2 separate regions of the Homo sapiens genome follow, and region 2 is linked to region 1. The links come from fine-mapping of genetic effects on gene expression. Tissue or cell type: cerebral cortex. Region 1 holds a variant in brackets; the other region holds the start of a gene. All regions are shown on one strand. Distances are between the middles of the regions.

What was found. PIP is the estimated chance that this variant, and not a neighbour inherited with it, causes the effect.
Region 2: it holds the start of UROS, and the variant in region 1 is fine-mapped to the expression of UROS in cerebral cortex (GTEx, PIP 0.97).

What each region holds. Positions count from the first base shown.
Region 1 is chr10:126,181,141-126,183,824 of GRCh38, forward strand. The region is part of intron 3 of ADAM12 (ADAM metallopeptidase domain 12); the gene reads right to left. Among named protein-coding and RNA genes, the nearest start is that of ADAM12, 210 kb to the right of the region's middle. The variant C/CA (reference allele first, on the strand shown) is at 1,274.
Region 2 is chr10:125,821,803-125,824,486 of GRCh38, forward strand. It overlaps UROS (uroporphyrinogen III synthase), which reads right to left and starts at 1,456. Exons shown (of 10, transcript NM_000375.3): 1 at 1,227-1,456. It overlaps BCCIP (BRCA2 and CDKN1A interacting protein), which reads left to right and starts at 1,744. Exons shown (of 7, transcript NM_078468.3): 1 at 1,744-1,920. The coding sequence starts at 1,756. RefSeq lists silencers at 1,103-1,532, 2,289-2,508 and enhancers at 1,384-2,069, 1,613-1,812.

The DNA of each region.
Region 1 (2,684 bases):
GGCTCACTGCAACCTCCGCCTCCTGGGTTCAAGCAATTCTCTTGCCTCAGCCTCCTGAGTAGCTAGGACTACAGGCACATACCACCATGCTCAGCTAATTTTTGTATTTTTAGTAGAGATGGGGTTTCACCATGTTGGCGAGGCTGACCTCCAACTCCTGACCTCAAGTGATCCAACACCCTCGGTTTTCCAAAGTGCTGGGATTATAGGCATGAGCCATCACGCCAAGCCTACACAGGGATTTTGATCATAGCTTTATGAATGCCTCAAAATAATTACAATAATTATATTGATAGTTTTATAGTTATACTGATATATATTACATGATACCATGTCCTACTCAATTTGTGATTATTACTATTTCATAAGTATAGTATCTGTGTACATATCTGTCCACCCACCCAGCCATCCACACATTCAGCCACCCAGCCACTCAAGAAACATTAATTACGAGCCTGCTAAGTGTCAGGTGCCGTCTTGGGCAGTGAAAGACAAATGAAACAAGCGAATGAAAGAACAACCTTCAGAGGAAGGAGAGAGGCAGAAGAGAGGCATACTGTGGGATTCCACCTCCATTTCTCAGTTGGTTAAAATTGCAGCTTTGTGTTTGCCTTCACTGGCATTACACCACTTCTTCTGCAAGCAAGCCAGCTGTTGACAGTCAGAAGATCAGGCCTTTGGCAGCAGTCCTTCTGGACCGACCAATAGCCGCAGGAGCCCCTCCTGGTGTGGAGGGAGCTGAGATCCACCGGGAGATTACATGATTTCTGGGGTCTTTAATTGCATGGCCCGGTCAGCATCCATTAGTCTGCTGCCTACACAATGCCTTTGTTTCTCAGATGGTAGCAGAGGACATCCTTCAGAAGACACGTAAAGCACATGATTAGGGAAACAAATAAAAGATGGAAGTTCACCCTCACACAGCACCGGCAACGCAGTGCATCCCAGGAAGTAACCACTGACGTATGGCACGCCAGGTAACAGCGGCCCTGCTGCCAGGTGCCCCTCTGCCTGGTGGCTGGTGAGTTTCCTTTGAGATGCCTTGTCAGAATTATATACCAAAAACATGAACATGTAGAGGGAGTATGTGGTACAATCAGAAGTCTGATGTTGAGGGCCAGATATCTATCACAGCACAGCATACTTATTTGCAGTATCTAAGACATAAAGACATCTAATAAAAAACATTAAGGGACTAAAAACACATTTATAGTCTCGTACAAATGGAATTTCCTTAACCAGGGACCAAGATTTGTCCAGCAAAACAAACAAA[C/CA]AAAAAAAACACTCACTATAAATTTTTCTTCTGGATGTGTTCACTTATTTAATGAAAGTTTATTAAATTCTTGATCTTTTCAAAGTATCCTTTGTAGACAAAAGACGTAAAAGCATGAAAATAGCAGATTCTGCCTTGGGGAAGTTTAAAATGTCACTGGAGGTATAGGACTTATCAGGCACATGAGAGAGAGAGAGAGCCTGTGCCAGGATGTGAAGAGCCCAGATTTCATGTAAGTTGCTGCGGGGATTCAAAGCAAATATTGATCATGGTGGGGCAGAAATAAACATCCGTGAGGTCAGTGGAGGTGGGCTTGAGGAGTGTAGCAGAAGGTTTTGCGTCCCTAGCGTCTCTTCTACTTGGATGACCCCCAGTCTAATTCTCGGGACTATGGGGATTTACATAAACATAAGAAGAGTTAATTTTCCCGCCTCCTGGCACGCAAGCGTGCAATCCACTAGAACAGGGGTCCCAAACCCCCGGGCCACAGACCGATACCTGTCCGTGGCCTGTTAGGAACTGGGCCACACAGCAGGAGGTGAGTGAAGCTTCATCTGTATTTACAGCCACTCCTCATTGCTTACATTACTGCCAGAGCTCCAACTCCTGTCAGATCAGAAGAAGCACTAGATTCTCACAAGAGTTTGAACCCTAATGTGAACTGTGCATGCGAGGGATCTAGGTTGCATGTTCCTTACGAGAACCTAAGGCCTGGTGATCTGTCACTGCTTCCCATCACCCCCAGATGGGACCGTCTAGTTACAGGAAAACAAGCTCAGGGCTCCCGCTGATTCTACATATTATGAGTTGTATAATTATTTCATTATATATTACAACGTAATAATAATAGAAATAAAGTGCATAATAAATGTAATAAGCTTGAATCATCCCCAAACCACCCCCTCAACCCCATTCCATGGAAAAAGTGTCTTCCACAAAACTGGTCCCTGGTGCTAGAAGGGTTGGGGACCACTGCACTAGAACACCACCCGTGTGCGAGCAGGGCGTCACATTGTAAAACACCTCGCCCCAGTCCCAGGATGGCTACTGCAGACAGGTGAGCTTCACCTCCTGCCATGCCATTTACACACCTTCCTGGAAAAGCAGAACAGGTGAAACAGCCATCTGGGGCAAGTGGTGAAGTGCAGGCTTTTTGAAGGCATAGCTGATAAGTCAACATGTCGTCCGCACTTCTAAAATAAAATTCTTAATTCATATAAATGTTTTTTGGATGTCTCCTCTGTTCCCACACATTATCCTAAGTGCTTTGAGTATGACAGTAATAAAGAGTCATGGCTTCATCTTTCCCCAAAGTACAACCACAGGAGCCTGTGACATCTTTTCTCCTAGAGCCACAAAATGGGCACCCACTGATATGTCATGAATGGATGGAAAAGTGAGTAAATTATAG
Region 2 (2,684 bases), 360 kb before region 1:
TTGCAGTTGTGCGACCCAAAGAGGCCATTTCAAGCTGCCCCATCAGATGTGGAGCGCTGATGTGTAAGTATTACTTTAATATCCATGACATGGCTGGGTAGACAAGAGACTCCCAGGAAAGACCGAAATCACAGAACACGATTATGGGCAATCTGGGCTCCTGGGGACCTTTAGGGCACGCCATCTCGTACTGATGAAGGATCACTGATTTATCAGATGTTACCCTGCTTAAACAGAAGCAGCCTATTAGCGCAGCTCACACCATTCCTAGAATCAAACATATCCAACCCACCCCCCTCATTTTACAGAGAAAAATCAATTGAGAACCGCAGATCTTATTCCTAGAAAGCTGATGAACCCTGTTTCTCTCGCAATGGGAAGACCTGGCTGCCCCAGGCTGCATCCCCACCTGCCACAGGGGCTGGCGCTCGCTCTGCAGTTGGCCGCAGTCCCCTCCACTCTTCTCTCCAAATAGGCTCGGGTCTTTAACCTAGACTACCCCACTGGCCCCGAAGCATTTTTTTTTTTTTTTAGATAGGGTCTACCTCTGTCGCCCAGGCTGGAGTGTGGAGTGCGGTGGCGCGATCTCGGCTCACTGCAACCTCCGTCTCCTGGGGGCATGCGATTCTCCTGCCTTAGCCTCCTGAGTAGCTGGGACTACAGGCGCGCACCACCACACCTGGCTAGTTTTTGTATTTTTAGTAGAGATGGGATTTCGCCATGTTGGGCAGGCTGGTCTCGAACTCCTGACCTCAAGTGATCCACCCATCTCGGCCTCCCAAAGTGCTGGGATTACAGGTGTCCGCCACCACGCCCGGCTAATTTTTGTACTTTTAGCAGAGATGAGGTTTTGCCATGTTGGCCAGGCTGGTCTCGAACTCCTGACCTCTGGTGATCCACCCGCTTTGACCTCCCTAAGTGCTGGGATTACAGGCGCGAGACACCGGGCCCGGCCCCCCGCCGAAGCATTTTTAACTGCGGTGCCGGCTTTAAAAAAACTTTTAGGTCAAGAAATGCGCTCCAGAAGCTCGGCGAGGGTAGGCTGGGCAGGCGCCTTCCGTCACCGGCGCAGCGGTAGCGGCAGCGGACATCCCCGCCTGGGCAGGCCCAGGTCCGCGGAAGCCTCGGGGCCCTGGCCCCACTGTGTCACACACCGCCCGGGGCCGGGCCCCTGCACGCCCGCGGGCTTCGGCGTCCGTACCGGTACAGCGGGCGGCGACACCTACCTCGCGGGACCGTGCCCAGCACCCGGCCTGGCACACAGCGGGCACCCGGTCGGGGGGCGGTGTCGCGCAGTCCCAGCGAAAAGGCTGCAGGAGCAATGACAACAGGGGCGGAAGCCCCCTCCCCACGCAGCCCGAGGGGCCGCGGCGGCCACCCGCGCCGGGCCCCAGGACCCCGCACCTCAGACTGGGGTCGCGTGGGTGGCTGCGCGCAGCTAGGCGCTCGCGCATGCGCACCGCCATCCAGGCCACGGAATGAGGCCAGAGGTTAGATGGGTTGAACCACTACGGGAAGGGGAGGGGAAGCTTTGGGAGGAGTGATGGAGGGTGGAAAGCGGAAGAAAAAAGCAAGATGGGACCGCAAGCTGGACGTGACTGTAAGGGGTCATGGCTGCGGAATCCAGCAGGGGCATTGGGGTTGACGTGCACTCAGCGCCGAGCTTCTTCGTAGTTCCTCACCCCCTTGGCTACTATGGGCTGGTCCGGAAGGTCAGGCAAGGGGAAGCTGCGCAGGCGCAGTGTGAGCGGCAACATGGCGTCCAGGTCTAAGCGGCGTGCCGTGGAAAGTGGGGTTCCGCAGCCGCCGGATCCCCCAGTCCAGCGCGACGAGGAAGAGGAAAAAGAAGTCGAAAATGAGGATGAAGACGATGATGACAGTGACAAGGAAAAGGATGAAGAGGACGAGGTCATTGACGAGGTGAGAAGGACACGCTCCCCTAGTTGGTTTATACCTGAGAAAAACTTTTTGGCAAGCCCAGGCTGTGTAAAAATAGTGTAGGGTCTTCCCTGACCCTGAGGGTCTGTGAGGAGAAACTGGAGATAAGTTCTTTCTCAGGTTTCTCCTCGGTCTTTAACACACTGCAGCCATAGTAGTTATTTTTTAAAGGTCTAGTCCGGTCCAGTTAATCTCCCAACCCGCGTCCTCCCCGAAAAAGCCCGCCACAACAGGTGTGTTCTTCTCGTCCTCTTTAGTTCTCAGGCTGAAGCCTCAGATCCTGAATCGGCCACCCCGGGCTCGCAGAGGGGGCCCTCTCCCCTCGGGGCAGCAGCTGTCCTCCTCTTCACTCTGCGGGCGGCACTCACTTGGGCCCTCAGTTTCTTGAAGGCTCTTGCCGCGTTCTACCGTAGAAGCCTTTTCAAATGCTCTTCTTTATCCTGCAGTTTTCCCTTCCTTCTTCAGATCTCAGCTAGGCTGTATTTTCTGGCTCCTGGGGCAGCTGACCAAGTCGTGGGTAAATCTTTGGTTTCATAGTCTCATAGAACTGTGTTCCTTTCTTCAGACTAGGTCCTACCGTAGTGCCTGGCAATATAGGTACTTATTATTTGTTTAGTAAACAATTAGGACTGAATGATCCTTCAGCCTACTGAATGTTTAAATAGATACCTCAGCCTTAACTTGTCCAAAGCAGAATTTGTATAATAATTCATGCCCCTCTCTTAATCGTCACCATTTCTATAAAT